Linked DNA regions of Homo sapiens. The protein of the gene in region 2 purifies or fractionates together with the protein of the main gene of each other region. This does not show direct contact. Each region holds a gene or a part of one and is shown on either strand. Other genes may lie near its edges.

What was found. Proteins that work in one complex are often made in the same cells at the same time.
Region 1: the proteins of CCDC85A (region 2) and PIP4K2A purify together in Homo sapiens (affinity purification with mass spectrometry; one large-scale study listed by BioGRID and IntAct). This does not show direct contact.

Annotation. Positions count from the first base shown.
Region 1 is NC_000010.11:22,606,579-22,610,078, forward strand, and holds part of PIP4K2A (phosphatidylinositol 5-phosphate 4-kinase type-2 alpha), read right to left. Parts: intron 3,140-3,500; coding exon 3,042-3,139; intron 1,446-3,041; coding exon 1,349-1,445; intron 1-1,348. UniProt on the Homo sapiens protein: Catalyzes the phosphorylation of phosphatidylinositol 5-phosphate (PtdIns5P) on the fourth hydroxyl of the myo-inositol ring, to form phosphatidylinositol 4,5-bisphosphate (PtdIns(4,5)P2). Has both ATP- and GTP-dependent kinase activities.
Region 2 is NC_000002.12:56,190,490-56,193,989, reverse strand, and holds part of CCDC85A (coiled-coil domain-containing protein 85A), read right to left. Parts: intron 1,514-3,500; coding exon 550-1,513; intron 1-549. UniProt on the Homo sapiens protein: May play a role in cell-cell adhesion and epithelium development through its interaction with proteins of the beta-catenin family.

The DNA of each region.
Region 1 (3,500 bases), on a different chromosome or scaffold from region 2:
TTGGCAATGGTACAGAGAGGGCAGTGGGAGCACAGATCTTTAGGAAAGTGTGCTAACTATCTCAGTTTGCCTGAGGGACCCTATTCTTCAGAGGAAAATACAGGGTAAGCTGTATCAGTACTCAATCTGTAGTCACCCAGGGTGGCAATATGTCACTTAATGCAGGATAAATTCAGATCTTAAATTGAGGGCAGATTAGGACTAGATTTGAAGGGACTTAAGTCAGTATATGCTGAGCATCCTTTATTTGAAATGCCTGCAGCCAGTCGTATTTCAGATTTTTTCAGATTTCAGAATATTTGCAAAGATAATGAGATATCTTGGGGATGGGACCCAAGTCTAAACACGAAATTTATCTATTTCATATACACCTTATACACATAGCCTAAAGGTAATTTTATACAATATTTTAAATAATTGTGTACATGAAACAAAGGCTGTGTTGAGCACTTAACTGTGGAATTTTCCACTTGTGGCATCACGTTGATGATCAGAAAATATTCGATTTGGAAGCATTTTGGATTTCAGATTTTCTGATTGGGATACTCAACCTGTCCCTTGGATTTCCACTTTTAAAAAAAATCCTTAGCATTTACGAATCTGGCTCGCTATATGAAACTTGGGTAACCAATGTCAAATCCTTTCTCAGAAAAAAATGATCATGGCTCAACAGTTATTTAAAGAGTTAAAACAGATGTTTAAAAGTTAGAATGAAGGACCAGGCCAGTGTGGGGAGGAGAGCAGCAGTGCACATTTTTACGTGGTGGGAATCAAGATGAAGAGGAAGATGTACCACAGGACACGCCCAGGATGTTGGGTTCCTGGTGCTGACCACAGTGCTATGGTCACTCCACAGTCCAGCACTGCAGTGCACAAAGGGTGCCCTTTGACAAAAATGCTGCAGCAAGAGTCTGACCAACTTGAAAAGCAGCAAATCAGCAAGATAAAGATTCCTGAGAGTCCTAAGTAGCCTCTACGAAGATACAAAACATGCACACTCACACAGGCTACTGACATGTCTGACAGCAGAAATTAACAGGCAGCTCTGCTAGCCTGTTAATTTCCACCTGGAAATGAGAGTATTATATAAAACCCTCACATGCTCAGTCTCCTTCCAAAGAAAAGTAATATATTTTCCTACTGACTTTTATACCGGTATCATATGTATAGAGGTCCCCAATCAAGAGAACACTTTACTTCAGCATGAACATTAAAAACTTCTTACACAAAATGAAAATTACTATTATATAATACTTTTATTGACAAAAATACAGATCCCAATTGACACAGCAAAAGTCATGGCAAAACCCATTTCCTACTGGAAGCAAATGTTACAAACGCAACTCACCTGGAAATCTTGATCATCAATTCCAAACCTCTCCCGCAGGTTACGGAAGACCATCGGGCAGTATTCCTTAAACTTGAAATGGCTCGGCATGTTTTCTCTGAAACAGTCACAGCGTGGAATAAAGCTCAGAGAGAGTCAATCAGACTTGCATCTGCCACCACTGAGTTCCACAGGTAGCCAAAGAAGGGTTCAGAGTTCACTGCCTACCAAAAGCACAGGTGTGCTTCCTAGAACCAGGTACAACCCGCAGAAAGATCCAGGAGACACAGGGGGCCAGACGGATGTCTGTCTGTCTCCTTTGTCACAGGCACGCTTGGACTATGTGACCTCTTTAAATCCTGGCCACACACTGCAGCCATTCCTCAAAGAACAAGAGGTGGGGAAGGAACGGGCCAGGCAGGGGGAGCAGTGAGGGAAAAGCACAATGGCGGGAGAGTGAGTTAGGAAGAGGCAGCGGAGCAAGGTTCCCTCTCAGCTACTGCTGAGGAAAGGAGGGCCACTCCCTCACCCCCCTAAAAGGCCTGTTTTATATAAATGCCACATTCTAAATTTGCTTAGAGGAAATTCCCTGAAAGTCAGCTTCTAAACACTGTTATGAGAAAAATTAACATCAGCTTCACATAAGGACAATGGCCCCCTGAAGAAATTTCATAATTGGCCTGGCATGGTGGCTTACACCACTCATTTGTAATCCCAGCACTTTGGGAGACTGAGGTGGGAGGATTTCTTGAGGCCAGGAGTTTGAGGCCAGCCTGGGGAACATAGTGAGACCCCTGTCTTTACAAAAAGTTTTTTAAAAAATCAGCTGGGCATGGTAACCTGCACCCGTAGTCCCAGCTATTCAGAAGGCTCAGGAAGGGGGATTGCTTGACCCCAGGAATTTGAGACTGCAGTGAGATATAATTTCACCACTGCACACCAGCCTGAGCAACAGAGCAAGATCCTGTCTCAAAAAAAAATTTCATAATGATCCTCACATGGGAGTGATTTGAGGTTCACCCTAATCATTCAGAATTGTTTCCCTCTTTGTGTTCCCACACAACCAGATAAATTAAATTATACATATGCACACACCCCTCCCTTATCATACTTTGCACACTGAACTATAGCAGTTTGTATATGTGTCAGTTTTTGTACTCTGAGCCCCTTGAGGGCAGGGCCGTGTCTTCTATATCATTGCATCTCTAGCTCTCAATGGACCACCTAACATATAATAGGTGCTTCATAATGACGTCTAAAACAACATTCAAATGAAGGAGGAATGTTATCAATGCCCAACATGGCATCTAATTGTGCCTTATGAAAATGTACCTTGGGTCTTTATTGTTCTAAGATGGAGTCATTGCTGTTCATAAATCATCATTTTCAAAGTTCTGTGTACAAGAGCAGAGGTTCATAACTGCTCAAAAATCCAAGCAATTTACAGCTTCAAAAATTTGAATTATAATGAGAATATCACTTTCAACGTATAAGATATTCATAGAGAACAATATGCCATATGGCAAAGGATATTATCCCAGAGAGCCTGCTGTTGCTTCTCTAAAAATGACAGATGGTTATGTTTATCACAGGATTAACTTCATCAGCAAAACTTTACTCCCACCCATTGACAAATTATGTGATTACAAAAATTCACAAAACTTGTACTCCTAGCAGCCACGCTAGTCTTATGAAAGGTCATACTTGTACTTACTTGTTAAAAAGGTGATTGTCCACCTTTATTTTTGAATAGGCTTTGAAGTCATCTGGCATCAACATAACAGGGATTTGAACATGGCTCAGTTCATTGATCTGGAAAAATATAAAATAAATAGCATGGGTTATTACTATCCAGGTGAGGAGGACTTGACTTGAATGTGTACCTTGGGAAAAAAAACATGGTGGACACAGGAACTTCTCTTCCCACCCACCAACCCACCCTCCTTCCCTCTGCCATCATAATCTCTCTTCCTGCCTTCCTCATTCCCACTTCTTATGTCTGTCTGATGCTGGGTCCATGGTGGCCACCGGACGGCAGTGGTGAGGGAGAGTCAATCCTCATGCCACCTGTCCCTGCTTCTTGCCCATCCACTCTCCCTACCTTCCCTCCACAACCTCATCCCACAGACCCTTTGGTCACATGTCCAGGACAACTTCCTTCTGTAAAGAAAAT
Region 2 (3,500 bases):
GTAAAGTCAGGCATATTTATAGCCATTTGGGCAGACCAGCATCAAGCCTGTTTAGGAACATCATACTTCTTTTTTAATGTTATTGGTTTTTCATAGAAATATTCATATCTTCTTGTATATAACCTATTAACTGGATTCAAAATCCTTTTGGCAACCATTCCACAAACAAGCTCTGGTAGGAAACAGCACACACCACTAAGAAAATGCTCAGGTTTAAGATGAAAGACTCTTAGAATGGTTCTATTTTTTATCACCAATACCCAAAGATTTCCCTTTGACAACTCAAGGTCCTAAGGAATTACTGTTCCTCTCCCTCCCATAAACCCTCATCCCCAAACTTCTTCACACTGACTGATAACTGTTTAGAATAAAAACAGATGGAGGAGAAGAACCCCATATCATGATTTTGGGTCCAACATTTGCTCCTTCCCCAAACCCACTCCCTAGCTAGCGCCTGCACTTTCTTACATGGCTGGAAAGTCCATCATCATTCGTAACTCTCTACTGAGTTCCCCAGCCCAAGCAGCACCCCAGCACATACTGACCCACCGTTCATGCCACTGTAGACATTCCGGTGATGGGGTGACCCGTCCTCCTGTGCCTGCCGTCTGAGGGTGCCCTCCCTGCTGCCTCCGCCGCTGCCTCCACTTCCTCCACTGCCTCCTCCGTGTTTGTGATCAGGGCTCCCTCCATAATGTTGTTTGAGGTGCTCCGGGCTGGTGCCCCTGGCTCTGGGGAGATGCTCTAGGCTCCCCCCAAGAGCGTGTTTCTGAAGATGCTCCGGGCTCCCTCCACTGTGCCTGGCGTGTTCAGGGCTGCTCCCTGACCGGTGCTTCTGGAAGTGTTCCGGGCTCCCACTCAGCACGTGCTTGGGCAGCGTTTCGGGGCTGCTCCCTGGATGCGGGTGCCTTTGCTGTTCGGGGCTGCCCTTGCACAAGGGTTTGTGGTGCTCCGGGCTAGGTCCTTTGAGTGCTTTGGGGCGATCTGGGGTTCCACAGGCTCTGGGTTTCTGTGGATGCTCGGGGCTGGCGCTCCTGTGCTTGGAGTGCTCCGGGCTGCCCTCGCTCCGGGGCTTCTGCAGGTGCTCCGGGCTGCCACTGCTCGCGTGGTGCTTGTGGTGGTCCGGGCTGTCAGTGCTGCCAGTGCTGGAGGTGCTGCTGCCGTCACCCACATCCCGCACGTAGGGTGCGGTGGAGGCTGTGAGTTGGCACAGGCTGGCCTGGCTGTCGATGGAGCAGCGGCTGCCTGCGCAGCCTGCACCCTTCTCCTCATCTAGTAGCACACAGAGCTCCTTGAGCTCCATGTTCTCCTTCACCACTTCCTCCTGCTTCACCTCCAGGTCTTTCAGCTTCTGCAGGTATAAGGCCACTTCCTTGTGCATCACCCCGGCAGTGTAGCGACCCAGTCTCTGCCACTCCCGAGACACCCTCTTGCCTTTCTGCCGGTCATCATCCAGGAAACAGCAGAGGTCCCTCAGTTCCTGGTTGTCTTCCTGGAGTTTCTGGTTGATATCCTGAAAAGAGAGACACAACCATTCAAGGGAAGTACACATCTGAGGTGTCAGCAGGCTCAGACTTCCTGGAAAGGGAGAGCCTGTAACTGGTGAATTACCTGTGAGGTTAGGGGAGGAGGTGAGGGAGTAGGAGGAAGCTGAAGATTTGTAGCTGTCCATAAAAATTAAACTAACTTAAGTATCAGTTCTATCCCTGCACAATACTTTACTTGCATTATGTCATCTAATTTTTACCCAAACATTTAGGGGATAATAATTAGTATGGCCATAAAAATTAAACTAACTTAAGTATCAGTTCTATCCCTGCACAATACTTTACTTGCATTATGTCATCCAATTTTTACCCAAACATTTAGGGGATAATAATTATTATGGCTCTTATACAGAAGAGGAAATCGGACCTCACAAAGCTTCACTTGTCCAAGTTCATCTGGTCAGTAGTTAGGGAGCAACCAGTTCATTATCAAGAAATCAGTCACTAGATAAAAACAAGGCTCCCCTGCCTCACCCTCAAGAAAGAAAAATAACTGCTTGTGACCTGTGAAATGCTTAAAAGCCCTGAGACAACAGACCTTTCAACAGAGTAAACAGCAAGCACTGCTTAGATCTTCAGCCCTGACATGGAATATGCAGCCCCAATTCCCCTGGTAGGGAAAGGCACAATTGCCCTCTAGTGGCATTTCAGCCCTGCACATCCAACCCCTACTTGCCACACCCACCTGAACATCTCCCAGGCATCTCTCACTTATCTCAAGCAACCTGAGCCTTAAATTAAGAGACCTCTCTCCCCAAACTGCACCTCTCAGCAAATGCCCCCTCTTTCTGTTCCACTGTTCTTTATATGAACCTGGGGTCATCCCTGGCATCTCCTTCTCCTTCAACCTTCCATTTCAAAACCAAACAAGGCTTTGGAGCTCTACTTCCAAAATTTAGCTCATCTTGTCATTCCCATGTTTGAAATCCTTTAATCTCATGGCCCTTAGGATACAATGCAAAATCCTTTAAGTCACACAAGGCTCCAGGTACATTGATTCTGCCTACTTCTCCTGCATGAGTGATGATTCACTTGCTTGTTCACAAATACTCAGTAAACATCTATTACTGTACCAGGTACCAGTCCAGGTGGTAGGGATATATCAGTGGACACAGCAAAGACCCTGACATGGTACAGCTTTTATTGTGGTGGGAAAGACTGGCAAAAAACACGTATAGAGCATAACGTCATGCAGTGAGAAGTTCTGGAAGGAAAATTGAAGCAGGTTAAAGAATACTCTTTTTCAAGAGAAGATACCGCTACAGAGAAGGGAAACATTTGAGCAGGCACCTGGGTGGAATGAAGGAGCCAACATTTGAGTGAAGATGATCCCAGGCAGGGAGAGGGCAAGTAAAAAGCCCTAAGACCAGCATGAGAGCAAGAGCTCAAGTACAGCGAGGTGAGCATGTCTAAAGAACAGAGAGCAAGTCAACGGACATGGGAAAGGGGGTCTGAGAGGCATCAGGGCCTAGAATATGCATGGCATGGTCAGCGACGGGAAAGGCTTTGGGTTGTTAGGGAGCTGAGGATAGAGGAGTGACATTACATGATTCCTTTTGCAAAGAATCTCCATAGTTGTGTGGAAAACAGACTGACTGGGGTAGGGGAGGAAAGAAGGGAGGGTCAGGATAAAGTGGAAGCTGCAAGATTAACAAGTAGGCTCCTGGGCTGGTCCAGGTAGAGGGAGATGATGGTGGCTTGGACGTGTGGTAGCAGTGGAGAAGGTGGGAACACCCCTCCTCATCACACACTGAGGCTGTGTTTCAGGTCCTCAAAGGGCAAGGCCTTTCCCTCTCACCTGGAATGCTCTCCCCAGCCTTCTAGACAACCATCAGGTCTCATTTTATAAGTCACTTCCCCATAGACACCATTCTATAGAAGGTCCACCCCCAATCTATGGTCTACCATCATCCCTCAGACTTACTGCAATTTGTAAGAAGAAATGTGTGAGTA